6 separate regions of the Homo sapiens genome follow, and regions 1, 2, 4, 5 and 6 are each linked to region 3. Evidence: fine-mapped expression QTL. A gene starts in region 3. Each other region holds a variant in brackets. All regions are shown on one strand. Distances are from middle to middle. Region 1 overlaps LOC105374797 (a long non-coding RNA gene). Region 2 overlaps PAIP2B (poly(A) binding protein interacting protein 2B). Region 3 holds the start of DYSF (dysferlin). Region 4 overlaps DYSF (dysferlin). Region 5 has its middle 40 kb from the start of MPHOSPH10. Region 6 overlaps ZNF638 (zinc finger protein 638).

The links. PIP is the estimated chance that this variant, and not a neighbour inherited with it, causes the effect.
Region 1: its variant is the best candidate, but not a certain one, in a credible set for the expression of DYSF in whole blood (TOPMed, PIP 0.63).
Region 2: its variant is the best candidate, but not a certain one, in a credible set for the expression of DYSF in whole blood (INTERVAL, PIP 0.75).
Region 4: its variant is the best candidate, but not a certain one, in a credible set for the expression of DYSF in whole blood (INTERVAL, PIP 0.74).
Region 5: its variant is the best candidate, but not a certain one, in a credible set for the expression of DYSF in whole blood (TOPMed, PIP 0.52).
Region 6: its variant is the best candidate, but not a certain one, in a credible set for the expression of DYSF in whole blood (INTERVAL, PIP 0.55).

The regions. Positions count from the first base shown.
Region 1 is chr2:71,266,373-71,271,761 of GRCh38, forward strand. All of the region lies in intron 2 of LOC105374797 (a long non-coding RNA gene), which reads right to left. Among named protein-coding and RNA genes, the nearest start is that of PAIP2B, 42 kb to the left of the region's middle. The variant C/T (reference allele first, on the strand shown) is at 2,920.
Region 2 is chr2:71,183,916-71,189,304 of GRCh38, forward strand. PAIP2B (poly(A) binding protein interacting protein 2B) reads right to left here. Exons shown (of 4, transcript NM_020459.1): 4 at 1-4,620. The coding sequence ends at 4,564. Among named protein-coding and RNA genes, the nearest start is that of PAIP2B, 40 kb to the right of the region's middle. RefSeq lists enhancers at 48-549, 550-1,049. The variant G/C (reference allele first, on the strand shown) is at 2,726.
Region 3 is chr2:71,464,595-71,469,983 of GRCh38, forward strand. It overlaps DYSF (dysferlin), which reads left to right and starts at 2,105. Exons shown (of 56, transcript NM_001130987.2): 1 at 2,105-2,339. The coding sequence starts at 2,249.
Region 4 is chr2:71,564,900-71,570,183 of GRCh38, forward strand. DYSF (dysferlin) reads left to right here. Exons shown (of 56, transcript NM_001130987.2): 25 at 3,052-3,183; 26 at 3,273-3,439; 27 at 4,921-5,035. Among named protein-coding and RNA genes, the nearest start is that of DYSF, 100 kb to the left of the region's middle. The variant C/T (reference allele first, on the strand shown) is at 2,974.
Region 5 is chr2:71,167,643-71,173,031 of GRCh38, forward strand. No RefSeq gene overlaps it. Among named protein-coding and RNA genes, the nearest start is that of MPHOSPH10, 40 kb to the left of the region's middle. The variant A/G (reference allele first, on the strand shown) is at 2,796.
Region 6 is chr2:71,357,946-71,363,334 of GRCh38, forward strand. ZNF638 (zinc finger protein 638) reads left to right here. Exons shown (of 28, transcript NM_014497.5): 4 at 5,208-5,246. Among named protein-coding and RNA genes, the nearest start is that of ZNF638, 29 kb to the left of the region's middle. The variant C/T (reference allele first, on the strand shown) is at 2,722.

The sequences.
Region 1 (5,389 bases), 200 kb before region 3:
AAATTTGTTTGAGTTCATTGTAGACTCTGGATATTAGCCCTTTGTCAGATGAGTAGGTTGCAAAAATTTTCTCCCATTCTGTAGGTTGCCTGTTCACTCTGATGGTAGTTTCTTTTGCTGTGCAGAAGCTCTTTAGTTTAATTAGATCCCATTTGTCAATTTTGGCTTTTGTTGCCATTGCTTTTGGTATTTTAGACATGAAGTCCTTGCCCATGCCTATGTCCTGAATGGTATTGCCTAGGTTTTCTTCTAGGGTTTTTATGGTTTTAGGTCTAACATGTAAGTCTTTAATCCATCTTGAATTAATTTTTGTATAAGGTGTAAGGAAGGGATCCAGTTTCAGCTTTCTACATATGGCTAGCCAGTTTTCCCAGCACCATTTATTAAATAGGGAATCCTTTCCCCATCACTTGTTTTTGTCAGGTTTGTCAAAGATCAGATAGTTGTAGATACGTGGCATTATTTCTGAGGGCTCTGTTCTGTTCCATTGGTCTGTATCTCTGTTTTGGTACCAGTACCATGCTGCTTTGGTTACTGTAGCCTTGTAGTATAGTTTGAAGTCAGGTAGCGTGATGCCTCCAGCTTTGTTCTTTTGGCTTAGGATTGACTTGGCAATGCAGGCTCTTTTTTGGTTCCATATGAACTTTAAAGTACTTTTTTCCAATTCTGTGAAGAAAGTCATTGGTAGCTTGATGAGGATGGCATTGAATCTATAAATTACCTTGGGCAGTATGGCCATTTTCATGATATTGATTCTTCCTACCCATGAGCATGGAGTGTTCTTCCATTTGTTTGTATCCTTTTTTATTTCATTGAGCAGTGGTTTGTAGTTCTCCTTGAAGAGGTCCTTTGCATCCCTTGTAAGTTGGATTCCTAGGTATTTTATTCTCTTTGAAGCAATTGTGAATGGGATTTCACTCGTGAATTGGCTGTTTGTCTGTTATTGGTGTATAAGAATGCTTGTGATTTTTGCACATTGATTTTGTATCCTGAGACTTTGCTGAAGTTGCTTATCAGCTTAAGGAGATTTTGGGCTGAGACAACAGGGTTTTCTAGATATACAATCATGTCATCTGCAAACAGGGACAATTTGACTTCCTCTTTTCCTAATTGAATGCCCTTTATTTCCTTCTCCTGCCTGATTGCCCTGGCCAGAACTTCCAACACTACGTCGAATAGGAGTGGTGAGAGAGGGCATCCCTGTCTTGTGCCAGTTTTCAAAGGGAATGCTTCCAGTTTTTGTCAATTCAGTATGATATTGGCTGTGGGTTTGTCATAGATAGCTCTCATTATTTTGAGATACGTCCCATCAATACCTAGTTTATTGAGAGTTTTTAGCATGAAGGTTGTTGAATTTTGTCAAAGGCCTTTTCTGCATTTATTGAGATAATCATGTGGTTTTTGTTTCACTGTCTTGAACTCCTGGCTTCAAGTGATCCATCCACCTTAGCCTCCCAAACTGCTGCCACCATGCCCGGCCCTAATTTATTTCTTTGTCATAACAGATATTATTTCTATAATAGATTATTTGCATTATATAGTATATTGGTGTGTGTGTATATATATACACATATATACACATATATATACACATATACATACAGTATATTATATACTATAACCATATAGATATCAAGCAGACTAGATGCTACCATAGGAGAATTTTTTTAAATCTTGGGGATATGATAGCCTTTCTAGGAAAGAGTAAAAGCAACAACAAAAAACCCTAGAAAGTTAGAAAAAGTAATGTGACTATATGAAAATCAAAAATAATTCAGCCAGGCATGGTGGCTCATGCCTGTAATTCCAGCACTTTGGTAGGCCAAGGTGGGCCAATTGCTTGAGTCCAGGAGTTTGAGACCAACCTGGGCAACACTGCAAAACCTTGTCTCTACAAAAGATTAGCCTGGCATGGTGGCACATGCCTGTAGTCCCAGCTACCTGGAAGGCTGAGGAGGGATGATCACCTGAGCCCCTGAGGTTGAGGCTGCAGTGAGCTGTGGCTGCCACTACACTCCAGCCTGGGTGACAGAGTGAGACCCTGTTGCAATAATAATAATAATAATAATAATTCACTGCAAAAATACAGTAAACAAGCCAAAAGACAAAGGGGGTAAAAGATAAGTAATTTATTCATATTGGACTACTTTCATTATTTTATATATATATATATGCATGTATACATATCTATGCACTACAATTTTTAAAAAGACCAACAACTGAATAGAAAATTAAAAATTAAATTTGATAATGTACTGTATAGAGACGTGTTGAAACAGTGGTCCTGACAAATTGTTATGGGAGCCACAACTGACATGAACTATATATGGATATTAATTTGGTAACATATATGGAATGTTTTAAGTCCGTACCTTACAATATAGTCAATACATACATATATACATTTATAATTTTTCTTAACCCATGGAATGTCTTTGAAAGGATATGCAAGAAACTGGTCAACAGTGGTAGTCTAAGAGGAAAGAAAGCTGGGGGCAGGAGGCAGTGGAGGATGAAAACTGTCTTTTCACTGCATATATTTTTGACACAATTGAAAATTTTAACCATGTCATGCATATTATCTAGTCTTCTGTACAAAAAAAAAAGGAAAAGAAAATGACATGTGGATATAAGACTGAAAGATTTGAAAGCTGTTGCAAGATGGCCGATTAGAAGGAGCTGCAGTCCACAGCACTCACTGAAGGGAATGTAAAGGCGCGAGTGAATTCAGCACCTTCAACTTAAATATCCAGGTTCTTGCATTGGGACTAACTAGGCAAATAACTCTACCCACGGAGAATGAAGAAAAGCAGGGGGCAGGGGACGACACCCCATCTGGGAGCTACAGGGAGCCAAGGGAACCCCCATCCCCAGCCAAGGGAAGTAGTGAGTGATTGTGCGACCCTGCCTGGGAAACCA[C/T]GCTTCTCTCACAGATCTTTGCAACCCCATGGATCAGGAGTTCCCCTCCTGAGCCCATGCCACCTGGGCCTTGGGTCCAAAGCAGAGAGCTGTGTGGAATCTTGGCAGAGCAGCAGCTGAGGCACACACAGAGACTAGGGAGTTTTACATACTCCAGCCCCGGGATCCCTGGCAAGGTGGGAAATCCCTCCCTACATCTCCTTGGGAAGGGGGCTGAATGCAGGAAGCCAATCAGCATCATTCTGTGGGTCCCACTTCCATCGTACCCCACAAGTTAAGACCCACTGGCTTGGAATTCCAGCCAGCCAATGGCAACAGGCTGGAATCTGCCTGAGATGGGTCTGGGTTCCAGAGAGGGAGGGGCGGCCGCCATCTCTGCAGTTCAGTAGCAGACTCAGCTGTTCCAGCCTAATGGCTTTGAAGAATACAAATAGTCCGAACGAGGAAGGGTCCTCCACAACGCAGCACAGCGGCCTTGCTAGATTGTGGTCTGACTGCTTCTTTAATCAGGACTCTGATCCATTCCTCCTCATTGGGCGGGATCTCCCTCCAGGGGCTTCAGACACTCCAGCCAGGGTTCTAAAATAGAACTCTCATCCCTCTTTGGGATGGAGCTCCCATGGGGAGGGGCAGCTGCCATCTCTGTGGTTTGGTTGACTCAGCCGTTCCAGCCTGCTGGCCAAAAGACTACAAATGATCTGGATGAGGAAGGGTCCCCCCAATGCAGTACACTTACTCTACCAAAAAGCAGCCAGACTGCTTCTTTTTTTTTTTTTTTTTTAAATGGAGTCTAGCTCTGTCACCAGGCTGGAGTGCAGTGGCGCAATTTCAGCTCACTGCAACCTCCACCTTCTGGGTTCAAGCGATTCTCCTGCCTCAGCCTCCTGAGTAGCTGGGATTACAGGCATGCACCACCATGCCGGGCTAATTTTTGTATTTTTAGTAGAGACAGGGTTTCACCATATTGGCCAGGATGGTCTCGATCTCCTGACCTCGTGATCCGCCCACCTCAGCCTCCCGAAGTGCTGGGATTACAGGCGTGAGCCACCGTGCCCGGCCCAGACTGCTTCTTTAAGCGGGTCCCTGATCCCGTTCCTCTTGACTGGGTGAGACCTCTCAACAGGGGTCTCCAGCCACCTCTTACAGGTATGTTGGGGCAGGCAACAGGTCAGTACTCCCCTGGGATGGAGCTTCCAGAGGAAGGAGCTGGTTGCCATCTTTGCTGTTTTGTATCCTTCACTGGTGATACTTCCAGGTATGGGAAAAACTGAGGCAACTAGGGTCTCGAGCAGACCCCCAGTAAACCACAGCAGCCCTTTGGTAGAGTGGCCTGGTTATTAAAAGTAAAACAAACAAACAAACAGAAAACAACAACAACATCAACAAAAAAGACTCCACAAAAACCCCATTCAAAGGCCAGCAACCTCAAAGATCGAAGGCAGATAAGCCCACAAAGATGAGAAAGAATCAATGCAAAAACACTGAAAACTCAAAAAGCCAGAATGCCTCTCCTCCAAATGACTACAACACCCTCCAGCAAGGGCACAGAACTGGGCTGAGGCTGAGATAACTGAATTGACAAAAGTAGGCTTCAGAAGGAGGGTAATAATGAACTTTGCTGAGCTAAAGGAGCATGTTGTAACCAATGCAAAGAAACTAAGATCGTGATAAAACAATACAGAAGCTGATAGCCAGAATAGCCAGTTTAGAGAGGATCATAACTGATCTTATGAAGCTGAAAAACACAACATAAGAACTTCACAATGCAACCACAAGTATCAATAGCAGAATAGCATGAAAAGGAATGAACAAAACCTCTGAGAAATATAGGATTATGTAAAGAGACCAAACGTATAAATGATTGGGGTACCTGAAAGAGATGGGGAGAATGGAACCAAGTTAGAAAACCAACTTCAGGATATCAACCAGGAGAACTTCTCCAACCTGGCAAGACAGGCCAACATTCAAATTCAGTAAATGCAGAGAGCCCCAGTAAAATACTCCATGAGACCATCAACCCCAAGATACATAATCATCAGATTCTCCAAGGTTGAAATTAAAGAAAAAATGTTAAGAGCAGCCAGGAGAAAGGCCAGATCATGGCTGGGCGCGGTGGCTCAAGCCTGTAATCCCAGCACTTTGGGAGGCCAAGGCGGGTGGATCACGAGGTCAGGAGATCGAGACCATCCTGGCTAACATGGTGAAACCCTGTCTCTACTAAAAATACAAAAAATTAGCTGGGTGTGGTGGCGGGCACCTGTAGTCCCAGCTACTTGGGAGGCTGAGGCAGGAGAATGGTGTGAACCCAGGAGATGGAGCTTGCAGTGAGCCGAGATTGCACCACTGTATTCTAGCCTGGGCAACAGAGCCAGACTCCATCTCAAAAAAAAAAAGAAAGCCAGATCACTTACAAAGGTGACCAGACTAACAGACTAACAGCTGACCTCTCAGCAGAAACCCTACAAGCCAG
Region 2 (5,389 bases), 280 kb before region 3:
TAACATATGCCTCATTAAAGTTGTTTTAAGAAAAGGATTCCCTGCCTCCCAAACCATCCTTCAAGCATTAAACATTTTTGGAGGCTCATAATCAACAGGACAGAATAACTACTTAGTGATGATTTACAGAGTGAAATATTTTACTGTTTTGTAGTAAGCACATTTTAGTAACTGTACACTAGTACAATGTTTTTAAGATTTTATCTCATTTTTGTCATATTAGCCTAAAATGTTTATTTTTATTTAAAAAGTAGCCAATAGGAAGGTAAGATTGGGGAGAAAGCTCAGTAAATGTCACAAAAGAGACTCCTAGTAACACAATCTGAGGGAGCTTTTTCTTTTGAAATAAAGATGGTGCATCTGTCCCTTTACAGATTTCTCTCCTGTCCCCTGGGACTGGGGAAGGTGAATCTCCTGCCTGACACCTTGTAGAGATTAGTGTATCCAGCTATTCTATTGCCACGATGCCTCTAAAAACCAGACTGACTGGGAACAGCAGTAGGGGGTTGGCCAGTGAGGGCAGGTGACTAAGTGGTGTGCAGGAAACTCGCATGTTTCCCTGGGTTGGCTTCCTGCTCCCCTGTCCCTGTCACCAATAGCAGCTTCATTGTGAGAAGATTAAAACAAAGGAAAAAAACCCAAAAAAACTGTTTCCAAATTGTAACTAACCAAGTCTGTGTAGGAAATTCACAAGGCAGCAGAGCAGAGGCTGCAGAGGTGCTCTGTCTACCGGGAGAACTAATGATCCCTGTGAGCAATGCAGGGTGCAATGAGTCACATGGGGAAATGTGGACAGAGGCAGAAGGACATCAAGGCCCCCACTACACACCAAATTAGAGTCAATCCTCCTGTTCTCCCCACCCACTTCGCAAACTAATGACGTCCGCGTTATCCCAGAGGAGAGTGGCTAGGGACACTCAGTCCTTCCCAATTATGTGGACGTCTCCAAATCTTGGTCAAATCTGTCAGATTTCTAACAGTTTCAATACCTCAATATCACCTAAACTGAGAAAGATTATTAGCCCGTGATGGTGGGACCCTTATTGACGAAGGCCTGCCCCCTCCTCACAGTTGGGTAGATTCCTGGGTTCCTGATGGTTCAGGAGCCTGGGCTGTCATTTGTCTACCTGGGGTTTGCAGCAGCCCTAGTACAAGAAGATTCATTCGTGCTGTTTACTTTGGCAGCCTCTTCACACAACTTTCCTCTCTAACACGTGTTAATTATCAGAGTATTCACCTCACCTCCTTACTTCCCAGCTTCTCCAAAATCAAAGCAATAGTAATAAACAATTTGGAAAATGTTGCTTAGTATTTTAAGCCATGGTTAGCATTATAACCTTAATTAAAGAGACCCCAGGCTGGGGTGGCTCACCACACCCAGCCTATAATCCCAGCACTTTGGGAGGCTGAGATGGGAGAATCACTTGAGCACAACAATTCAAGAGTAGCTTGGGAAATAGAGCAAGATCCAGTCTCTACAAAAAATAAAAATAATAAAAATAATTAGCTGGCCGTGGTGGTGCGTACCTGTTGTCCCAGCTACTCGGGAGGCTAAGATGGGAGGATTGCTTGAGCCTAGGAATTTGATGCTGCAGTGAGCTATGGTCATACCACTGCACTCCAGCCTGGGTGACAGAGTGAGACTATGTCTCAAAAAAAAAGAAAAAAAAAAAAAAAAGAGGGACCCCAGCTGCTGTGACTTTGGAAACTAAAGGTGTTAACAAAGGTCAAGCCTTTCCTTAGGATCGTTTCTGGTTTCACCCTTATGTGATTCCCAAAACTCAACTATTATTGTCAGAAACTGGCCCAAAGACCCAGGGCTGCATTTGCCCAGGCCTAGGCTGTATCCTTGAATTTTCTGCTGCAGTTCAAAGGCCTGGAGAAACTGAAAATGCATTCATTTGGGTTTTTTCCCTTGAAAAGAAAGAGATAAATTATTTTCATCTTGGAATTTTAGAGTTGAATAAATAATCCCAATAATTACAGATCAATCACTAATAAACTAACATTGGGACCAGCCAGATTGGCAACTGTTAGAAATACATGTTCCATTTCTATACAAATTCTCAAACTTCTAGTTGCCAATTTAAAAAAGTTTAAACAAAGTAGTGGCTTAAATTCAACATCAAAATTACCCCTTATAAATACAAGTCTTACCATTAAAGGGTAAAGGTGTCCAGTCTGGCTTGCTGGTTCTTCTTCTGTGAGAAAAGTCACTGACAGCCAGAGGCTCCCAGCCTTTCCCCAGTGAAGGTCCAACAAGACACACATGCATTTTCTGCTAAGAAGGTAGCAAACTCTAACTAGCCTGTGTTGTGAGTGACAATTGTGCCCCTACCTCCCAACATAAATAGATGGCAAAAAGAGTTGGACTACAAGAGGAACCGCCGGAAGCAGAGTCCTATGCATTTAAAAAAGAATCAATTTGCTAGCTGCTTCCTATACCTGGAGTCAGTATGTTCAGTGTCTGAAGAAGACTAGAAATGCCAGCCCTCAGTGTCCATGCTAAACTGGCAGGAAGTTTTCATAGTCCTGAAGACTGACATCCAAAACAGACCAGCACAGCAGAAGGAAAGACAAGCTCCTTTCTCTCTGCAATCCCAACGCATTTCTAACAGCCTTCGGAATTCTGAGCTTGGACAGGCTCACGAGGATGAAGGAGGAAAAGCAGTCCCAGAAGGGAGAGATTTCCTCTATGCACTTGCAATGCCCTTTCCCTTTTAGA[G/C]GAAACAACCCAGCTGAAAGCTGAAGCTTGAATAAAGAAGTTTCTTTATTCATAGTCCTCTCTGAAAAAGAGTTAACAGTTTCATTCTCTCAACATAGAGGCTTTGGGAATTAATGTGTCTGTCTGGTAATGCAAGTTCTCTAAGCTACTCTCCTATGACATGTGACCTAACAAGGAAGGCAATTTTTTCAAATGATATAATCCTAAAGACTCAAATAGGAAAAAATGTGTATTTTAAATCTGGCATTAGCTTATCACTGTTCAAAAAGTCAACGAGAGCTCATAAGGAGAATTTCTTCAGCTTTCCATACCCTAGTCCTTTCCTTCCAACCTCTGTCCCACAGCCACATACTGAATTTATACCAACTTTGTTTCAAGTTACATATCTTTTCCCTATTAGGCCTATCACACAGCACAGTAGCAATCAGAAAGAAGCCACTATTATCTTCAGGGCTCTCCAATTCCTCATCCCTGGGAGAATGGCCTGGATGGCTCTCCTGTACCCCACACTGCCATCTACATCTCTATACACGAAGGTAGCTCCTGGCACCCAGTTTAGTTCCTTAGGGGTAGCAACAAAAGACCCCAGCAAGTTAAAGGCAGGAAAGACAAAGAAACACACCCTAAGAGGTCAATCTACAAAACTTGCAAAGCTGGGTATGTGGGAACAGTAAAATGTTTTAATAGCTGAAAAGATCCCAGAAGGTCAGGTACACAGTCACATGGGTCAAGCAGGACTCACTTTCCTAGGCTGATTTTGAGTTCCTTTCCATAATTCTGTAATGTGGGAAGAAATATCCAAACTGTGAACTGAGCTTCTTACTAGTGTCCTGAAAAATATTTCCTTAAAAAAGTGCATAAACTTGTCTGAGGGAATTAAGACACCAGGAAGACCAAGTGTTGATGAGGCTGGAAAAAAAAACTGTCCAAATAAAATTAAGACACAACAGATTCAAGGATGACTTCTGCAGGCTCATGCTAATTGCCAGCACAGCAGGCCTCCCCTATGCCTTTGGTAGCAGTATCTTTTCTTAAAAAGGAGGCTGGGGAATAGACTTCATGAAAGATGAGGTGGCAGATCAACCCTAGTGCTCTTCTACTTATAAATGGTGAGTCTGATGGTGGTGGTGAACACAGGCTTATGAACAGGACAACAGTAACTAAATGACTCAAGTGACAACCACCATCACAGCCCTACCTTCTGATTTACAACTTTCAACAATCATCAAAAGTTACTGTAAACTAAGTACTTTAAGTCTGTGTTTTCTTGAATGGGGTTCAGGACAAACAGGCAAGGGCTTGACAGCACATTGGTTATCCGAGTTCATTGCAGGAGACCCCGGGGGTGGGGCAGCTGAGCCTCAAATTCCAGTTTGCACCACCTGCTCTTTCTGCTTGTCCCTTTTCCCATCCAACTCAATAGATTCCACAAAAAGCTCTCCAGGTGCTCACTGTCCCTGATAAGTATACAGCAGGGTGAGAGGGGCATTTCCTAAATATCCAGTTTTTCTTAGTCAGCTTATTTTGTTTAAATACACACCGCGGAACACTTCTGATGAAGGGGGGAAAATGCAATTTCCTTAACTCGAAAGAGCTATTTAAAAAAACAAAACAGGAAACTCCCCAAACAAAAGTCAGCAGAACAAAATAGAAATACTCAGAGGCTTAGAATAAGACTGAGCATATTAGTTACTCAGAGTCACAGTATTGTGAGACCACCACTCCCCTTCCCGCTGTGCACCCCTCGCCCGCCCCATCCCCCTCTTCAGCTCCACCATTTTGTGCATTACTATCCCCAGATGTGGGGACAGACAAGTCTTCCTCAAAGCTTTCTCGGCTCAGTACTTCTCTCCTGGAATAAACTCCTTGGCATCTGGGTTCAGGTTACTTTTGCTCTGAAATAAGAACCAAGAGATAGTAAATCCTAAGGCAAGCTGCATTTTAAAACTTACCCAGTCCATCATTATCAGTACCTTCCCCTTAGCTTTAGGGAGAGAAAGAAAATTCCTTGTAACTCAGGCTGTTATTGCTAGGTTATCTCAACTGCACCTGACATAGCCCTGAGCAAGCTCATCTTCTCCTTCCTTCTTTGGACTCTTGTTTCCTTCCTGATGCTTTCCAAAATCTCATCAGAGGCCTGTAAGTTCAACTCCAAGAATAATTTTTCAATTCACTGAGTACCTTAACTTGGTGAAAACCAGGGTACTCCATCAGACCAGGCTGGATACCACAATCTCTATTTTTCTTCATCTTTCTGTACTCTCTTTGGTTCTCTACTCTCTTGTGAATATCCAAAACCTTAGCAAACCACAGGGCAAGATTGTTCAGAATATGAGTTGTATGAAAACTATATTGCTCACAGACTTTTTTTTTTTTTTTTTTTTTGAGACAGTCTTGCTCTGTTGCCCAGGCTGGAGTGCAGTGGTGCAATCTTGGCTCACTGCAAACTCCGCCTCCCTCTGCCTCCCAGGTTCAAGCAATTCTCCTGCTTTAGCCTTCCAAGCTGGGACTACAGGCGCGCACCACCATGCCTGGCTAATTTTTGTATTTTTTTAGTAGATATGGGGTTTCCATGTTGGCCAGGCTGGTCTTGAACTCCAGACCTCAGGTGATCCACCCGCCTCAGCCTCCCAAAGTGCTGGGATTACAGGCGTGAGCCACCGT
Region 3 (5,389 bases):
GGGAGGTCAGAGAGGTCAGCCAGGGCTTTCAAGGTCACGTAAGGGGAGAGTGGCTGGAGAGGAGGTCAGCGAGGTCAGCCAGGGCTTTCAAGGTCACGTAAGGCCTTTGAGTTTTGCACTGAGTGAGATGGGAGCCAACGGAAGACTTTGAGTAGAACCAGGTCATGAGAATTGAATTGAGGATAGACCATGGGGACAAGGGCAGAGCAGGAGACGCATTGGGAGTCCATGGAGTCGATTAAATGACTCAGGCAAGGGATGACAGGCTTCCACTGGGGGCAGTTACAATGGAGATGGTGAGATATGGTGGGATTTTGGACATATTTTGAAGGAGAGTGGGAGGGGGATTTGCAGTTTTGGTGACCTGGTGGGGTTGAAGGTGTCACTGGGTGGGTTCAAGAGAGAATGGAGGAGGGAGATTGGAGACAGAAAGTATGGAGAGCTCCTTCAAAGGGCATTGTTGTGAAAAGGGAGAAATGACCAGTAGCTGAAGGGGATGTGGGGTCAACGGTGTGCTTTCTTGAGAGCAATAACATCATGCTTGTGTGCCGATGGGATGATCCGGTAAACAGGGGAACTTGGTAAGGCAAGAGAGTGAGAGAATCACTGCAGGCTCACCACTGAATGGGCGAGAGGGGATGGGGTCTATGCCCAAGTGTCCAGTTGTTACCAGTGGGGAGTACGGGTGATTCATTTGTAGGAACAGGAGAGAACTCACAGGATTTGGGCACAGATGCCGAGGGCGGGCGTTAGAAGGAGACTGGGGACCTGAAGAAGTTCTCTGCTCCGTAAAGAGGAAGCAAACTGAGAGTGAGGTTGGGCGATGGGGTGTCCTAGGGGCATCCGGGAGACAGGGAGACAAGACATATAGTATGATTGCCCCCAGCAGTGAGGGCTCGCTTGAGTTAAGGGTCATGACTACAAAAGGCACCACTCAGGCCGGCTGTGTTACTCTCCAACACAGCACTGGTTGGGGGCAGGTGTGGAGGAGGCGGAGTTGGATTCGCCAGGGTTATGGCTTAGCCCTGTGAGAATGCTGTATCCCTCAAAATAAGAGAGGGGAAAGGGAGTTGAGATTTTGCGCAGCAGTGCGTTTAGGCTGAGTGAGCAGGTTGGTTAGTGAGGACTTGGGCGGTGGGAAGACGGACAGTGCCCTGACAGGGGCTAGGTGCTGGAGTGCTGGGGGATAGAAGTGCGAAGCCAGGGCCCCTGTGTCAAGAAGTTCATACGCTGGAAAGGAACCAGACATAATAAGCGAAACGACTGTCACCGTTCATGGCTTACACCTTGAACAGCTTTCCACTGTGGAGACTAGGGAGTGTAGAGATTGTTGGGGATGGGGGACTTGCAGGGGACAGAATGGGCCGCAGCTGGACCCTAGTTCTCCAGGGAACGCAGTATGATTTGAATACAGATCTCTGCCTCCAGAGATGAGTGACTCGACACCGCTGCGGAGAAGGCTCCGAGGAGGGTTGGTGGGGACTCGAACCTCGGAGTCTCTCCCGACCCGGGGGTCCCAGCAAACCAGAACGGCCACCTAGACAGCCTGCGGACGGGAGAGGACCGGCTCCCTGGCGCAGATCATGGGGCAGGTGGAGAGAGGCGAGAGGCAATGAGGCGGGGGGCTCGGGGTGCACGGCACGCTCCGCACACTCCCCCTTCAGCGCTCACTCAGACTTGGTTTCCCCGAAGACACACTCTCGTCCCCGCCGCTGATTGCCCACTCCTTCCGCCTGCACTCCTGCCTCCTTCTCACCCTTTCGTCGAGCGCACAGGGCGGCTGCCAAGTCGGCACCGGTGCGCACCGGGCCCGGGATCCCTGGCTGGTGTGGAGCCTTGGTCACCGGAGGCCCCCGCGGAGCAGGCCCCACGGCGCCTTGTGCGCTCTCGGAGGCCGAGCTGCGCGCCCGCGTCAGCGGCGCCTCGTTCCTGGCCGGGAGCTGGGACCCGCGGAGCTAGGGACCAGCACCCCCACAGGCGCCCGTCTGACCCCTGTCCCTCCCCGCCCGCCGCGGGCAGGGCGGATCTGGGTAGGGGCCGGAGGGGGAGGGTCCGCCCAGCGGGTGTCCGGTGTCCTCCCTGCAGCCTCTCCCAGGCATTGGTCACTTCTCCGCGGAGGAGCAGCGAAGGCGACAGCTCTCTTGGCGCGGCTGCCTGGGAGCCGGGCGCTTGCTGGGTGGGTGCTCGGGCCCGGTGCTCCCGCTCCCGCCCTGACTGCGCGCCTGTGTGCCGCCGGGGCTGCCCAGCCATGCTGTGCTGCCTGCTGGTGAGGGCCAGCAACCTCCCCAGTGCGAAGAAGGACCGGCGCAGCGACCCTGTCGCAAGCCTGACTTTCCGAGGTGAGAGCCCCGTGGCTGCCGCGCCCATGCTCGGGTGCTACCCGACTCTCGGCGCTCACTGGCGGGTCTGAAGCCCCTGCTCCGGAGCTAACCCTAGTCCAGGCCACAGTTTCTCCCTTTGTCAGCAGGGACGGAAATCCCAGCCCCGACTTCTGCAGGGGGGCGATGAGGAATAAGCAGAGCACAATAAATGCCACAGGGCTTTGAAAAATTGGAAAAGCGAAAGTGCCGTAGGTCAGCGGTTATCACTTTTCTAAGACTGACACCCAGAGGAAATAAAGTCCGAGCTTTTACTGGGTAGTGGGGATAAGGGTAAGTTGGAAGATGGGTGCAGAAGGTAGAGAGGAATCAGGGCCTCTGAAAAACGGGGCGTGTAGATGATGTGCTTTGAAAGTTGTGTCTTTTTTCATTCATTCATTCATTCATTCACCCATCTTTATCCAACATTGGCTGTATTGAATCTGCCCCGTCTTAATCAGTAGGAAAAGGAACAGAATAGGATGGAAATGGCCTTGACACAAGGAGTTTTGAGGAATGTCAAGGATATTTTCTCTAAATTCAAGAAGCTAAGTCCCTACATGTAGTGCTTAGAATACATACAGGTATTTCTGTGTGGGGCAGCAGAGAAATCACACACACACTCCTCTTCTCACCAGGCGTCCTGAACCCCCTCCCCCAACCCCTCCAAGGCAGATTCCCACTGGAGCGGGTGTCTCAGGAGGGGAAAGGGAAGAGGAAGGATCTGTCAAAATTAAGAGAAGGAACAATAGCTGTGAGTCAGGACCCCAGTTCTGCAGAGAAAGATAAATCAGGAGAGGAAAGAGGGTTTCCACTTAGCCAGGAGCCATACCCTGTAGCTTTGTGGAATCGATAATAATAATAATAAAAATCTACGTATCAGAAAAGATAGTCAAATGAAGAAGGAAGAGTAGCTGGTGTTTTCATAAGCCTCCTTCAGTGCAGGCACCAAGGGAACTCTTTTCAGTCTGACCCATGATCTGAATCATATCTCCAAGCACCCCCAAGATAATGATAGATGAAAGACATGATTTGGCAAAGGGAGATTTATGTGTAGCTTTTATTCTTTGCTGTGGGACAAGTTATATGTATTCCTCTTTTGAAAGATGTGATTTGAAACGTTTAAGAAAATTTCACTATTTTCATTGATTGGTGACATGCCTGGGAGTTCACTATGCAAGAGCAACTTCAAGACAAAGTCTTTCCTTCTCCAGTGTCCACCTGATGCTGCCTAAGGCTTTGCTATGCAGAAATTGCGGTGTCACCATTGGCTGGAAAAGAAATTCCCTAAGGACACTGGGCAGGGCACACATTAGCATAGGGCTCTGGATGCTCTAACACTCGTTTGGGTCTGCTCACAGCTCTTTCCCTTGTCCTGTAACAGTCCTGTGGTGGCTACCAATGTCTCCATTCTGCAAATAAGGAAATTGAAACCCAGGGAAGTTAAATGTGTTCAGGTCAGTGGTCATGGCAGGGAGCTACCAGCGCTTGGAGTGGGTATTGCCCTTGAGTCGGGAAGATGACCAAATCCCTTGAGGCCCCTCTTTACTATTGCCCTCGCCCAAGTACCCCGAACACGTGCAGCTGCTATCTCCCCCCAGATCTCTGTATTCCTTCTTTGTAATGCCTTACTATTTATTTGCACTGATGATCTCCTCGGAAAACAGAAATACCATACAATAGAATGTAACATCTCCAACCGTTTCAAGTCTATTTGTATTTCAAAGCCCAGGGCAATGCCACCTTCTCCAGGAGGACACCCTGGATCCCCCTGGCTCTCAAGAGTCTCTCCTCTCTGGATGACAAGCAGCAGCACCTTGCTAGGGATGCTAGCACCCTCGCCCTGACTGGCCTGTGCTCAGCTCCATGCTTAGGTGCCTTGAGAGCAGTGACCTGTCCTATTTGTTCATTGGTTTGTCCCAGTGCTGAGCACAAGTAGGTGCTCTCTAGTGTTTGTGCGCTTTCTGGCCCAGCCTCTAGCCATCCTCCAGGTGTGCCTGGGAGCTTCATTTAGTCTGGGACATGGTCCGCTCACTTGATTGTTCCTGAGAATCACTTGTAGAACGTGTTTGAGAAACAGATTCCAGAGTCCCCATCTGTAGAGGTTCCGATGCAGCAGGTCTGGAAGGTGACCTAAGAATCAGCACTTAACAAATACCCGATGCAGGTTATTTTGGAACCGCATCTTGGGAAAAATGGGTCTGAGATGTGATGGCAGGTGAAATTAATGCGCTCCCCATTGCGGGAGCATTCACTGGGGAGTTTGGGGCTGAGTTGATGCCTAAGGAGGGAAACCGTTAGAACCAGGTTCAGAACTTACAGAGCATGTAGGCTGGGGGGACTCAACTCTGGCTGCAGGTCAACATTGTGTGTGGGAGCTTCACCAAAGACCACTGCCAACCTCCCTGCCTGCCTTTTCTGAAGCCAGATCCCTTCCGGTGGGGCCCCAGGCATAGGTGTTGTTTCTGTCAAATTTCCAGGTGTTTTGAATGTGCAGTCAGGGTTGAGAACCACTGAGCCCAGCTCCTCATGGCACAGATGGGACAGTGGCCTGCTTGCAGAGAAGCCAGCCTGCACTGTGTGTTTGGCTCCTACAGGCAGCCTGAAATGTATGGGGCTGGGCTGGCCCCACTTTCCTTGCAGTTGTTCCCTGTCTCGGATGTAATTTCAGGACCTGCCTCCCAAAATAGACTATGAGCTCTGGGAGGCTGGACTCTGAGGGCAATTTTTTGGCTTCCCTGTCTAAGCACCTCTATTAATAGTAGAGGCTACTAATGAATACTTCTCATTCTTTTGTTTTTCTATTAATTAATTCATTAACTAAAACTACCATGAGTAACTGGGCCATAGTAGATATTTTTGACTGATTGTGTCAACGAGCAGCTTAATTTCCTATAGCATTTAATTGTCTGTACTTCTTTTCTGCCCTGCCCATTTTCCATTCCTTAATGTGATTATTTATATCCCTCTATTCATGCAGTTAGTTCATTGAACAAATATTTACTGAGTACCTACTACGTGCCTGGTGCTTT
Region 4 (5,284 bases), 100 kb after region 3:
CATGCGCGGACATAGAGCCAAAGCTGCTGTGGTCATGGTGTGGCCTGGCGTGCAGGACACAATGCGGGAGATCCCTCCCTGCACGATGGCTGCCCAGGCCCAAGGGAGGGCCCTCCTTGAAGAGCTGTCAGCAAGGCTGCCCCTGCTTGGGGAGGAGTGGCCCTGAGAAGCAGGCCTGCTCCTTACCTTTTTTTTTTTTGAGTTGGAATCTCATTCTATTGCCCAGGCTGGAGTGTAGTGGTGTGATCTCCACTCACTGCAGCCTCCGCCTCACAAGTTCAAGGGATTCTCCTCCCTCAGCCTCCTGAGTAGCTGGGATTATAGGCGTTTGCCAACCCACCCAGCTCTTTTTTTTTTTTTTTTTTAATTTTAGTGGAGATGGGGTTTCACCATGTTGGCCAGGCTGGTCTCGAAATCCTGACCTCAGGTGATCCGCCTGCCTTGGCCTCCCAAAGTGCTGGGATTCAGGCGTGAGCCACCGCGCCAGCCCTCCTTACCTCTTTTCATTTGCCCTGAATAGCTCTACTAGCATTCAAGGACTCCTCAGCCTAAGGCACCAGACTTTCATCCAGCCTAGTCCACCTCCCCAAAGCCCCTCCACGCTGGACCTTCCCCTTCCCTACATCTCTCCTCCCTCCTCCCCTCTTCCAGGAAGTCGTTGTTGACTTACTTTAGCCTGGAACCCTGAAGCAGAGCCCCCTGAGTGATGCTGATGCATTCATATATTGGCCAGTCCTCTTGTTGTCCCCTGGGGGGTGTGGAGAGGGCAGGTTTCAGTAGCACAGAGGATGCCAGGGCTGGTTGGAGCTCTATGTGGCCTTGGGCAGGTTGCTTAACCTCTCTGAATTGCCTGTTGTCTTATCATCTGTAAAATGAGGGTGGGTGGGGCTGCCCACTTTACAGGTTTTGAGGGTTGAGTTAGGTGACACAGGTGATGGGTCTTGCTGGAACTAAGTGATCAATGGATGTTAGTTTCTCTCCCCACCTCTCCCCTTTTCCTTTTGGGGAGCTCCCCTGCTCTATGCGTGCCATGACTGGAGGCCAACTCAAGGCCAGGGATAGTAGATGTCTGCACACAGTTGTGTGAGTGAGTGTGTCTGTGTGTGTGTGTGTTGGGCAGCAGGCTGCCCCCATCCACCTGCTCACATGCCACCTGGGGCATGTTTCCCATTAGATTCTAACCTCCTGTGCTTGTCAGAGCCTAACCTCTGAGAGTCTACCTCCTAAGCCAGTTCCTGGCCTGGTAGGGCAGAAAGGAAAGGAAGTCAAGGAGTGGCCATATCTGAGTGGGGCTGACCGGGGAAGGCGGTCTGCGAGAGTGGCGGGGGCGGGGCGGGGGGTGCTGCTGAATTGTGCCTGGTGGACTTGCTGGGAGGGGATGAGCTCCAGGTTCTGACCTCTTGGCCATGTAGCCTCAGGGAAATGCAAACTGAAAATTTTCCCTGGTTTCAAGCAAAAAAAAAAAAAAAAAAAAAAAAGATATAGAATTGTTTCTCGAAGTCTTCCCCACTGAGTTTATGAGCCCCGCCAGTAGCTCCTGAGCAAGCTCTACAAAAATGTTGGCAGCAAGCAGAGACCAAGAAAACATTGGTGTTTCTTAACTTAAACCAAAGTTGGAAAAAATGAGCACCAGCAGAGAGAGAGAGGAGCCCCAAACTAGACATTTCTTTATTTGCTGTTGCTATTTTGGGTCCAGCAGGCTGGCCCCGTCTCGGGGAGGACAGGGGAGAGAGCCGGGGGTGGATGGGGGAAGTGGGGGTCAGGCATTCCTGCCATCTCCCTGGGGCTGGTGGTTTGGAGGGTAAAGGCAGTTAACCACCCGGGGGAGAGGACAGCCGAAGCGAACAGCCATGGAGAGGTTTCCCCGGGGCATGACACGTGGACTCAGGGGCTCCTACAGGCTTCATTGAAGATGAACCAAAAGAAGGGGGGCTGTGTCCGCAGGAGGGAAGCGTGAGGTGGCCCTAGCCTTGGCATGTCCTCTGCCCCTTCCTGAGCCTCCTACCTGCCCTGGGCTCTCCCTCCAGGGATCCAGGCCTCCCTGACCAGCGTGGGACCCCTTACCTCAGCTGCCCTTTCATCTTCTGAACCCACCCGTTTTCTCACTTGGCTATACTGCTCTGAGCTCATGACACTAGGCCTGGGTACTTAATGTGTTGCCTCCTCTAGGGGACAATGTGAATTTTAAGAGCAGGAGCTTCTGCTCCTCAGGCCATGTCTGACCTTTGGTTTCAATCAAATGGTGAAGTAATTGTGGAGAATAATTTTTGTTTCATGTTGGGTTGTTGTGGTTATTCCATTTGGCAGAGCTTCTGAAAGTTTCAGGAAAAAAAGCAGTTGAAGACCAGTGAATAGTGGTTGACATGCTGATAATCACTTGAAAGGGTAGGGATATTAGATGATACAGTAACCAAAGAAATAAAATACTAAACATGGAGGGGGAGGCTTTAATTTCTTCTCTTTCCAGATCTGTATCATTGTATCTCCTTTAGAGACAAGTTTTAGAACTGTGCTGTCCAATATGGTAGCCACAGATGGCTATTTAAATTTACATTAATTAAAAGTAAATGAAACGAAAACTTTATCTCCGCAGTCATACTGGCCACATTTCAAATGCTCGGTAGCTACATGGGCCTAGTTGACTACCATATTGGATGGTGAAGATATAAACCATTTTCCTCATAGCAGAAAGTTCCATTGGCAAGCACTGTTCCAGAAGAAAATGGAAGCGAGGCTGTGGTGGGAGAAGGGGAGAGGAGAGGTCCTGGGCTAGACATGGTTCTTCTCTGCAGAGCGCTCCTAGGAGGGAATGATGTAGCCTTTGCCTTTGATGGGGAGGAATCTTGGTGAGGGGTAGGGGGTGGGGTGGACGTTTCTTAATTGCACACTCCCCTTCTATGCAATTCTGGTAAGCGCTCCCACAGGGGACACTCCCAGTGAGGGTGTCAGCCTGCTCTACCCAGGCTTGGAGGA[C/T]TCCTCCTCCCCAGCCTCTCACTGGGACATCCGGATCCTGAAGGGGACTGTGGGTTTCTGTCCTTCTCTGGTACCCAGTATCCGATGGAGAAGGTGCCTGGCGCCCGGATGCCAGTGCAGATACGGGTCAAGCTGTGGTTTGGGCTCTCAGTGGATGAGAAGGAGTTCAACCAGTTTGCTGAGGGGAAGCTGTCTGTCTTTGCTGAAACCGTGAGTACCTGCCAGCCCCCACCTCTGCCTCCCACTACCTGGAGCTGCCTTGGCCCCCTGCTCACGCCTCATTCTTCCTGGCCCTCCAGTATGAGAACGAGACTAAGTTGGCCCTTGTTGGGAACTGGGGCACAACGGGCCTCACCTACCCCAAGTTTTCTGACGTCACGGGCAAGATCAAGCTACCCAAGGACAGCTTCCGCCCCTCGGCCGGCTGGACCTGGGCTGGAGATTGGTTCGTGTGTCCGGAGAAGACGTGAGTCGTGGGCAGGGAGGGCTGGGGAGAGCCAGGCCAGGCTGCCCACCATGGACTGCACCCTCCTTTTGGAGGCAGGCTGGGGTCTGTTGATCCCTCTGCTTGCTCCTGCGCTGGTCATAGGAACTTCCGCTGAACTCTCCCAGGACTGAGGCTTGCCAGGCAGCAGTCCTTTCCAGAAGGGCTTGGATGGTCAGACAGTCCTTTATTCTTTTCATTAAAAAAATTTTTTTTTTTTTTTGAGACAGAGTCTCACTCTGTTTGGAGGCTGGAGTGCAGTAGCATGATCGCAGCTCATTGCAGCCTCAACCTCCTGGCCTCAGGTGATCCTCCTGCTCCTGCCTTCTGAGTAGCTGGGACCACAGGCGTGCGCCATCATGCCTGGCTAATTTTTAAATTTTTTGTAGAGACAGGGTCTCACTGTGTTGCCCAGGCTGGTCTTGAACTCCTGGGCTCAAGTGATTCTCCCTCCTTGAACTCCCAAAGTGCTGGGGTTACAGGCTTGAGTCACCACGCCTGGCCAGGCCTTTATTCTCTCTCTTTTTTTTTTTTGAGACGGAGTCTCGCTCGGTCGCCCAGGCTGGAGTGCAGTGGCGCGATCTCGGCTCACTGCAACCTCCACCTCCCGGGTTCACGCCATTCTCCGGCCTCAGCCTCCTGAGTAGCTGGGACTACAGCTGCCTGCCACTACGCCCAGCTAATTTTATTTTGTATTTTAGTAGAGACGAGGTTTCACCATGTTAGCCAGGATGGTCTCGATCTCCTGACCTGGTGATCCACCCGCCTCGGCCTCCCAAAGTGCTGGGATTACAGGCTTGAGCCACCGCGCCTGGCCCAGGCCTTTATTCTTAAGCCTTCGTTCTGTGTGGTGCCCACTGGGTGTGGCCCCATCCTCAAAGACACCCAGGACAAGCCCATCACCTCCTCTGCACGTGAACCCTTCTCGTGTCTGGGCTGCTCACACATCCCCTGAGTGGTCCTTTCTCTGTCAGTCCCTCTCAGATCCACGTGGTCCTTCTCCATGTCTATTGCCGCCTTTGCCTCTCTCTCCTCTCCTTTTCCTGTTTGGTTGGCATTCAACTCTGTGGTGTTTAACTTTTTTTTACTTAAAAAAATTGAAGTATAACATATTATACAGTCAAGCACTCAAATCTTATGAGCACAACTTGATAAAACTTTATATTTTTACAACTATCCATCAAGCCTCGACTGCCCATCCTCCTTTTGCTGTCTTCAGTTGGCCCCCTTTTCTCTTTATCTTGGGTGATGTGCTCTTTTGTCCCCGATTATCTCGGAGTGTCCCTAGGTCTCCTTTTCACTGTCTGCCTTGGTCTCTTGCACCCTTCCCTCCCCACCCCCCATGTCTCTCATTGTTGGTTGGGGTGAGGCTGACATACGCAGGGGTGCTCTCCAGGAGGTGGTAGATGGATGGGGGCCTCTCCAGCAGAGCAGCAGAGACTCTGACCAGCCCTCCTCCACAGTCTGCTCCATGACATGGACGCCGGTCACCTGAGCTTCGTGGAAGAGGTGTTTGAGAACCAGACCCGGCTTCCCGGAGGCCAGTGGATCTACATGAGTGACAACTACACCGATGTGGTAAAGCAGGCACTCAGGGGCAGGTGGGGTCTAGACATTTGGTCTCTGGAGGCACCTGGTGCTCAGGGACAGGTGGGGCATGTTTCTCTTTGCCCCCTCTTACCTCCGGAGACTTCATGCTTTGATTTCCAAAGGGAAAGTGTGGGGTGCAGTGGTGGCAGGACACTGACTCTGGGGCTCTGCCCTTCTGTCTGGGACTTGGAGGACGTATGTTGTCAAGTTGCATCTTTTCTGCCTCCCTGCTCACAT
Region 5 (5,389 bases), 300 kb before region 3:
GGAGCAGACTTCCCCTTTGGGATGGTTTGGAGAAGTTAGGTTTGAGGGCATCCTCTCTTCTGCAAACTGCAGCAGTAATAGGTGAGATATATAAAGTAAATAAAGGTCAGGTGCAGTGGCTCATGCCTGTAATCCCAGCACTTTGTGAGGCCAAGGCAGGAGGATCACTTGAAGTCAGGAGTTCAAGACCAGCCTGGCCAACATAGTGAAACTCCATCTCTACTAAAAAAAAAATACAAAAATTACCTGGGCATGGTGGTGGGTGCCTGTAATCCAAGCTATTCAGGAGGCTGAGGCAGGAAAATCTCTTGAACCTGGGAGGTGGAGGTTACAGTGAGCCAAGATCGTGCCACTGCACTCCAGCCTAGGCGACAGAGTGAGGCTCCATCTTAAAAAAAAAAAACGAAGGAAATAATTTTAAATTGGAAAGAAAAATTCCTGTACTTGCAGACCATATAATTGCCTATGATGAAAATCCAGAAGAATATACAGATAAATTATTAAGACTAGTAAGAGAGTTAGCAAGGTTGTTGAATTCAAGATCAACTTAAAAAAAGATTAGCATTCCTATACATCAGTAATAACAAATTAAGAAAATGTAATAGAAAAAGAGATTCTATTCACAATAGCAACAAAATCCTGAGAATATATCTAGCAAAATATACACAAGACCTTTCATGAAGAGTATTGCTATAGCCTGAATGTGTCTCCCAAAATTCATGTGTTAAAACTTAATTGCCAAGGTGATAGTATGAAGAAGTGGGGCCTTTAAAAAGTGATTAAGTCATAAGGGCAAGCCCTCATGCATGAGATTAGTGCCTTATAAAAGGGCTTAGGGATGGTGGTAAATCTGCCTTCTGCCACATGAGACCATAGCATTGTCTGCTCCAGAGGAACCAGCATTCAAGGTACCATCTTGGAAGCAGAGACCAGGCCCTCACTAGACACTGTACCTGCTGGAGCGTTGATCTTGTTCTTCCCAACTTCCAGAACTGAGAAAATAAACTTCAGTTGTTTGTAAATTACCTAGTCTCAGGTGTTTTGTCATAGCACTACAAAGGGACTAAGACAAATATAAAAACTACCCAGGGACTTAAAGGAAGAACTGACTAAATTGAAATATATACTGTATATATTATGAATAGTAGGACTCAATGTTATAAACATATTACTTCTCACTGAATTAATCTATAAATTCAAGCAATTCCCACACAAATCCCAATAGAAGTTTTTGTGGAATTTGACAGGCTGATCCTAAAATTCATGTAGTCATTGAGGGGCCAAGAATAGTGTAGCAGACACCATTGGTGCCCTCCCCATAGCCCTCAGCATTGCCAGCCACATACATGCCTTCAAGAGCACACTCAATGTATTCATCATTCCTTTTCATTTCCTGTATTTCCTGATGTTTTGACAGCTGGAGCCTTGCTGATCCTGGAGAGAATGCTCCTCCCAGGGCTAGCCAGTTCCTAGAGATAGTAAAGGACTCACCTGCAAGTGCACCTCCCATATGCAAACCAGCCAATCCAAAGCCCGTAGACCCAACCACTTCCTTCATCGGGCTCTTACACTGGGCCACTGTCCCTCTGCCCTCATCATCCCAGGGCCATGAGCCAGACAACTGGGGAGAGCCCTAGGCCCCAGAGCGGAATGAAATTATTCAAACTATTAATAGCTAATCCTGTGCCTGCTTACCTTGCCTTTCCCTTGGATGCCACAAATAAAGCTCTTGCCCATGTTTTCCCCTCACTCCTTTGACTTCTTGACCAACCCTGGTGCCTCCCTATGTATCCCTGCATAGCATGCCGTGGCTCTTGTTTCTAGGAAACTTTGAGTATAAAAAAACTCTTTCCTTCAGGACAGTCATGTCCATGTCTGTGTGTCTTACCATATCTGATTAAAATAAATGTTCAGTGCATTTTAAAACAGCCATGAGGAATGAGAGTTGGTGGATAAATATTGCAGCTTCCCCACCCCTCAGTTGGAATAACTTTGAAGGGCCCAGTGAGATTGAACCCCAGTTACCCTTTGTGGCAACCTGCTCGTTAATGCACTGTCTGTTAGCTTTCTTCCCTTACCTATTTCACTTCCCACCCTCTTACCTGGGCTTCCTGGAATCACCTTCTAAAAAAATGCTTGCACCCAAATCCTTGACTCAGGCTCTGCTTCTAGTGGAACACAAGTGAATATATATATATATATATTTTTTTTTTTTTTTTTTTTTTTTTGAGATGGAGGCTCACTCTGTCGCCCAGGCTGGAGTGCAGTGGTGCGATCTCGGCTCGCTGCAAGCTCCGCCTCCCAGGTTCATGCCATTCTCCTGCCTCAGCCTCCCGAGTAGCTGGGACTACATGTGCCCGCCACCATGCCCAGCTAATTTTTTGTATTTTTAGTAGAGATGGGGTTTCACCGTGTTAGCCAGGATGGTCTCGATCTCCTGACCTCTTGATCCGCCCACCTTGGCCTCTCAAAGTGCTAGGATTACAGGTGAGAGCCACCATGCCCAGCCACAAGTGAAAATATTTTTAAAGAATGAGAGTAACATAGAGGTCGGTGGGTAATGGAACGTTTAAGATTTGTGTGCATACTATAATGTCATAGGAATTAGGACAGTGATGTGTTGTCAAGGGGATTTACAAATCGACCACTGGAAGAGAACAGGAACCCAGCAAAAGACCCATGACACATGGAAACTTGGAATGAGACAGAAGTTGCATTGTAGATTGTTGGGGAAAGGATGGAATATTCTACAAATGGTGTTGGCACAATTGATTTTCCATATGGAAAGTAAATAC[A/G]ACTAGATCCCTAGTTCACATCATACCAAAAATAAAATCCAGGTTGATTAAAGATCTAGCTGTGAAAAGCAAAACTTTGAAAGCAATTACAAGGAATCGTAGGGGGATATCCTTATGATTGGAGCAGTGTCTTAGTTGGGGCTGCTCTAACAAAATGCCATGGACTGGGTGGCTTCAACAACAAACATTGATTTCTCCAAGTTCTTGAGGCTAGAAGTCCAAGATCAGGGTGCCAGCATGGCTGGTTCCTGGGGAGGGCCCACCTGCTGGTTCACAGAGGGCCATCTTCTTGTATCCTCACACGGCAGAGAGCAAGAAAGACAGGAAGAAACTCTCCTGAATCTCTCCTTATAAAGGTACTGATCCCATCATGCGAGCTCCTCCCTTCTAATTACTTCCCAGGGGCCCCCCCTCCTAACACCATTATATTGGAGGCTAGGATTTCAACATATACATTTTGAGGGGACGCAAACATTCAGTCCATAACATGTAGAAAGTAATTTCTTAAATAAAATACTGAAAGTGGCTGGGTGTTGTGGTTCACGCCTGTAATCCCAGCACTTTGGGAGGCTGAAGCAGGAGGATTGCTTGAGCCCAGGAGTTCCAGAGCAGCCTGGGTGACACAACAAGACCCCATCTCTCTCTTTCTCTCTCTCTCTCTCTATATATATATATATGTGTGTGTGTGTGTGTGTGTGTGTGTGTGTGTGTATATATATGTGCAAAATTAGCTGGGTGTGCTGCTGCATGCCTGTAGTCCTGGCTACTCAAGAGGCTGAGGTGGGAGGATCCCTGGAGGCTGGGTGTTTGAGGCTGCATTGAGCTATAATTGAGCCACTGCACTCCTGCCTGGGCAACAAAGCGAGACTCTGTCTCAAGAAAAAAATATTAAAAGTGTAAGCTCAAAAGAAAAATGGTGATAGATTTGACTTCAGTAAGGTATTTAAACTTCTATTCAATGAAACATACCACAATGATGATTCTGCAAAGGACCTAGAGTGAATAGTAAATCTCTCTTCTATCCCTTCCCCGTCCCAGCCCCAGCTCCCCTCCCAAGAGACAACCAGTGTCTTTTCTGAGCGTGTCTAATTCACACTCAGCATCTAGGTTTACATAGTATTTTAAAATATTTTCATACAAGTATTAGTACACCAGGCATATTGTTCCTGCATCTTGCTGGTATCCTTTTTCTTTCTCAAGACAGGGTCTTGCTCTGTCACCCAGGCTGGAGTGCAGTGGCACAGTCATAGCTCACTGCGGCCTGGACCTCATGGACCCAAGTGATCCTCCCACCTCAGTCTCCCAAGTAGCAGAGACCACGGGTGTGCACCACCATGCCCAGATAATTGTTTTATTTTCGTACAGATATGGTCTCACTATGTTGCCCAGGCTGGTCTCAAACTCCTCAGCTCAAGCCCTCCTCCTACCTGGGCCTCCCAAAGTGCTGGGATTACAGGTGTGAGTCACTGTGCCTGGCCATGGGATTCTTAATAATATGTCTTGGAGATTGTTTCATATCATTATATTTAGAGCTACCTCACTCTTTTAACAACTGCATATAATTCCACTGCATGAATGTATCATAATTTATTTATCCGGTCCTTTTAAGTGGACATTTAGGTTTTTTGTTTTTTTTTTTTATCTTTTTCAGTTATGAACAGTGCTACAGTAAATGTCTTTTTCATATTTTTACGATGAGTTTTTAAAGCCAATGTACTAGAAGATGGAAGGAAGCAGGTTTCTTACCCATTCCATCTCGGACTGCATTTTTAGAGGAAATTGTGCTATCTGGAGAACCATATTTGGCTCAGAGGATCAGGAGTGCTTGGATCCTACCCTGGTCTAACTCTTCCCTCCCCTACAACTAGGCCAATGAGAGATGGAGAAAATAAACAAGGAACATCTCATTCTTAGAGGGGCTGAAAATCTAAGGCCATGCTCTCTGGAGGACACCCCTTCCCATAACCCAGGCTTTCTCTTTGACATTTTGGACTAGATAGACCTCTGTTCTGAGGGCTGTCCTGTGCACTGTAGCATGTTTAGTAGCATCCCTGACCTTGACCCACTAGATACCAGCAGCACCTTCTCCCTAGTTGTGACAATATCTCCTGGCTGAGACCTACTGCTCTAACCCAGCATGGACCTCAGAATCCTACCACCCATAGGCTGGCACAGGGGCAGGAGACTGAGGCCCCAGGAGTGCTTGGCCCAGAATAGGAATGGAAGTGAGATGACCAGGCTTTGCACACCAGGATCAGCCTGTCCTGCCATAGGAGGCTCATGGAGCCAGTGGTACCCCTGAGGGCCCCAAGTGCAGAGCCTTTTCATAGTTGTCCCCCTGCCCATTGGCAGACATGGCCGCGTGGCACCCTGGCATCTATCCAAACATATAGTGACCTCTGCATGAAGGATAGGGTGGGAAGCTGGGGGAGATCTGGAGGCTATATTCATACATGCGCAGCGCAAACCAGTGGAACTGCCTACCACAGGTGGCCTCCGTCAGAATCGGGACAGTAGATGTGAACTCTGCTTTCGTGTCAGGTTCTGAGGACAAAGCTGATAGAGTTGGCATTTTTTCCCCACACTTCTAGATC
Region 6 (5,389 bases), 110 kb before region 3:
ACTTAAACTGGGAGAGAATAAATTTCTATTTAGAGTCCAGAAGTCTGAAATCATGGTGTTAGTTGGGCCACCATTCCCTTCCGAGGCTCTGGGGGAAAATCTGTTCCATGCTTCTCTCCTAGTTTCTAGTGACTGGGGACAATCATTGACATTCCTTGGCTTGTAGCCTATCATTCCTATCTCTGCTACTGTCTTCACACCACCTTCTCTTCCCTTAAACCTCCCTATGCCCTGCTATTAGAAAGACACTGGCTATTGGATCTAGGGCCCATTGGATAATTCAGGATGATTTCATCTCAAGAATTTTAGTTTGATTACATCTGCAAAGATCCTTTTCCAAATCGGGTAACATTCACAAGTTCCAGGGATTGGAACATATATATGTATGTATCTTTTGGGGAGCACCATTCAAGAATCCATTTTAATCAGTTTCCCCTAATACCAAATCGCTCTCTCGTCTGGGCCTTGAGCAGTGCTTTTGCTGCCAAAAGCAATCAAGAGCTGAAGCTGAAAATGAACAGTGTGTGTATTAGCACCTGTATGCTGGTAAGAACTGCAACTGGATATATCCTTCGATCTGGCATCCTCTGGGTCAGTTTCCACTTTTTCCTATTGTGGGGCTTAAGGGTTCTTTCGTTACACAGGTAACTGTGGTTTGAAATTTAAAATAACAGTATGTCTTTCCTAATTCTCCAGGCTGTGTCTCCTAACCAGGCCTCATGATGCCTTCACAGTTTCTTACCTTCTGCACATTTTTCTTCACCTGGCCTCACTCTGATCACAATGGCAGATCCAGGGCCTCCCTCTTCCCTTGTCTCTACTGGGTCAGTCAGGACTCTTTCCTATCGGTGCCATTTTTCTAACAGCATGTGCTCACTTTGTGTCCCTGAGTCACACTCATAGTATTTCAAATTTTTGCATTATTACTATACCTGTTAATGGCAATCTGTGATCAGTGATCTTTGATTTTGACTTGCTGAGGGCTCATGATCAGTATTTTTTAGCAATAAAGTACTTTTTAATTAATACATGTTCATTTTTAAAAACATGCTATTGTACAGTTAATAGACTGGCATAGTCTAAACATAACTTTTATTTGCACTGGGAAACCAAAAAACTTATGTGACTCGCTTAGTGTGATGTTCTAGAACTGAATCTACAGTATCTCTGAGGTATGCCTATGTATCGATATATGACAGGGGATTTACTAGGGGAATTGGCTTACACAATTATGGAGGCGGAGAAGTCCCACAATATGCTGTCTGTGTGTTGAAGACTCTGGGTTTCTGGTAGTGTGGCTCAGTCCAAATTCAAAAGCTTCCAAACCAAGGAAGCTGATAGCATAATTCTCAGTCTGAGGCAAAAGGCCCTATAGCCCCAGGAGCCTGCTGATGCAAGTTGCATAAGACTTGGAGTTCTGATGTCCAAGAACAAGGAGGAGAAGGGCATCCCGCTCTGAGGGAAGGAGGGGTGGAGAGAGGGAATTCCACCTTCTTCCATCTATTTGTACCATCTGGGCTCCCAGCCTATGGCGTGATGCCCGCCCACATTGAGGGCAGATCTTCCTTACTCAGCCCACTGACTCACAGACTAATCTTCACTGGAAACACTCTCACAGACATGCCAAGAAACAATGCCTCACCAACCATCTAAGCATCCCTCAATCTAGTCAAGTTGACACCCAAAATTAACCATCACATTCAGGTTGTATGCACTTGAATAATTGCTTCATAACTTTCTCTCCACTGCAAAATAATTTAATAAATAGATTTGGTTAGGTGCTTGGGATCTGCATTCTTTATTCTTTTAAGCTGTGTTATAGGGATATACCTTCTTTCTACTCATTCCTCCATTGATGTATATTTAGATTTTTCTTTTCTTGTGGCTTATTCTCTCTGGCTTTATTGGCTCTTTCTGGATTATGATACAAGAGTAGTTGAGGAAAGATAACAGTGCATCAGAATTTTAATATTAAAAATAGGTAATTATGCTGTGTTTATTGTGTGCTGGGCATTCTTAGTGCTTTACATAATTGATTTAGTCTTCAAAACCATCTACGAGGTGTTAAGTATAAGGATTATTCCAGACTTTATCAATGAGAGAAGTGAGGCACAGAGACAATTTCCCTACCATCATGCAGCACATAGTTAAATGGAACTAGTTTAGCTCATGGGCCTTTATCATCCCTTCTACTTTTTTATGGCTTAAAAAATTTTCAGAATAAAATATTGAAGAGAAAAAGGAAGAAAAACATTTATGTGTTCTTCATCTATATTCACCATTTGTTAATATTTGCTTTATTATATCTTCATACATTTTTTTCTGAACTATTTGAAAATAAATTGCAGACATTATGGGACATCATTTCTAAATTCAGCATGTATCTCCGAAGTATTAGGATGTTCTGCATAACCACAATACAACACATTTAAGGAAATTAACAATAATTCCACAGTTCCTTCTAATATATAAGCCAAATTCATATTTTCCCATTTCTTTCCAGAATGCCTTTTATAATTCTTCTTGTTTGCCCCATCCATACCCTCAATCCAGTATTCAGTTAAGATTTATGCATTACAGTCTCTTTTAATCTAGAATAGCCTACTCTTTGTTTCGTTTGTTTTTTGTTTTGTTTGTCTTTTTTTTTTGTTTGAGAAGGATGTTTTTGTGGTGTTGATTTTTTCCTTGAAATGTCTGGGAAACTTGTTGAATGTCCCACTT[C/T]CTATAGTTTTCTATTTGTTTCCTTAGCATTAAATTCACTGAGAACATTTTTGTTGCAAATGCTTCGTTGGTGATGTGTATTTATTGCATCACATTGGGACAAAGATAATATCAGTTAACTAGGTCCTTGCTCTTAATAGTTAATGTTATACCACCTTTGTTGGGAGCGTTATTGCTTCTGAAGCACATTTTTGACTAGTTGGGCAGTATAGAGGTGTTTCCAAATTCTGCTTGCAGAATGTATACATGCTTTATCTTTCTGCTCTGGGCAGCAGAGATGAGAACATGTGTTACCTAGTGAACAGGTCTGAACTTGGTGAACCTGAACCTAATGAAGATCAACAATATTATTTATTGCTATCTCAGCTCACTGCAACCTCCACCTCCTGGGTTCAAGTGATCCTCCCACCTCAGCCTCCTGAGTAGCTAGGACCACTGGTGAGTGCCACCACGCTCAGCTAATTTTTTGTATTTTTGGTAGAGACAGGGTTGCCAAAGCTGGTCTCAAACTCCTGAGCTCAAGCGATCTGCCTACCTCAGCCTCCCGAAGTGTTGGGATTACAGGCATGAGCCACCATGCTCCACCATTATTACCAGCTCTTGAATATTAGTCTTCAAGCTCTTGTGAACCATAAACTAGAGACCCCCTGGAAATTTAATAACTTTGATGTGTTGTTAATCACCTTCATTTCCAGCATATACATGTGAGAAAGCTAAGGCTTACACATTCTAAGTAACTGGCTTTAAGTTTCTTAGCCATTAAATGACAGCACCTATAGTGAAACCCAGTTTTGTTTGATGATTAAAGATTTGCTTTGAATCACTGTAAGACTAGGAATTTATCCTCCTGGGTGGTACAGAGCAATGAAAGTTTTAAAAAGTGTGGAAATAGATGAAACAAAATTATCCATATATTGGGAATTGTTGACACTAGATGATGGGTATGTTGGATTAAAGTTAACTTTTTTGTCTTCACAGTTTGTCCTCTCATAATTAAAAGATGCTCCAGACAATATATCTATTCTCAAAGTAAGAAGAATGAGGCAGACGCTTTCTCAGATGTCTGTCAGGGGTTTTGTACCTGTATCTCATTGGTTAGAACTTACCACTGGCTGTCTTCTAGAGATAGTGGGAAAGCAAATATTTAGCTTTTTTTTTGCCATTGTAATAAAGGCAAACAAGGGAAAAGGGAATTGAGAATTGCTGTGGGGTTAGCTCATTAACAATGTCTGAGGCAAATAGCAACCAAGACAAACCACTTTAATAAGGTTCGACCTAACGTTATTTTCCTGCTAGGTGATTTGTCAGAAGTTTGCTGCCTCCATTTCCTTACCTGGCTTTCATCTTGCTGCTGAAATTTTATTCTTAAATGTAGTGATTTATTTATTTAATATAATCAGCATGTCCAGATGCCTCTTAGAGTTCAGATTTTCTAGAAGTTGAGAGTGAAGATACAGCCTTTTTCTTAGGCTTCTATGATATTACTGTTTCTCCTACTAGTTTTTCCGTGATTGCTTCTTAATCTTTTATTATTTTTTTTCTTTGCTTTACTCTAAAGTTGTCGATGTGCCTAAGATTCTGTCCTCGGCTCTCTTTTTTCCTATAAACTTCATCTTGTGTTAGTCTCACTCTTAGGGCTATAATTGCGGCTTCTACATGCCTGATTTCTAAATATCTCAGCTCTCATCTTTTCCCCTAATTCCAGATATTCCTTTACACTTATTCTGAAAACATTCCTGTTATCTTCTCTTACAAATGTTCGTTAAGTTCCCATTGTTTTTTTCCTGTGTGTAACCTCATTACCTGATTTTAAGGCTCTTCGTAATTTGTCTCTACCTGAAACAACAGACAGCCTGTCCAAGTTTCCCCCTTTATAATTCCTTTTCATCATGTCTATGCTGTAGCCAGACCACTTCCTGGAACAAAACACCGATGTTTTGCCTCCAATCTTAGTTTACATATTGCCACTGCATGAAATCTAACCTGATCCATTCCTATTAATAGATCTTTGTAAGGGCTACTTGAAAAGCAACCCTTTCTATGAGTTCTCTCCTGATTCCTCTCAGTGGACATATCTTTATGAGGACTACTTGGGGCAAGTTAAGGGGCACCATTCATGTTGTATTCTGTGAGTTGCCATATGGAATATGATAGGAGTGGTGTTCCCTAGAGTTCTGTAAAGTAGATGAACTGTCTTCTCTCTTTTAACCCTTAACCTAAGCTCGTATCTTGTACCTCTTAACACTTCTGTGCATATGCTGGCCGGTTTACTTAAATGAAAGTTTAGGCCTTTAAAGTATGGGGAGTGTGTTTCCCTGATACACCTATTAGCATAATACTTTGATTATTTATTGAATTAAACTCTCAAAATATTTTATTTCCAATAAAAGTTGTGAAAAGTCCTTTTGATATATTACAGGTAAAGATTAATTGAGCCTTACAGTCTGATTTTAGCTGTTAGTTAATATTGTTTATTTTCAAAATAGGTATCCTGATTGGAATCCTGAGATCCTCCCATCGAGAAGGTAATTTTTAAAAATAGTAATATTATTAAAACCTGATTGTCTTTTAAAAGTAAACAGTTAATTTTAAGAAAGTGATTCTTTTGAGTTCTACTTCTGCCATTTAAACAACAGGCAAATGCAAAAACCTCTATGAATCTTTAACT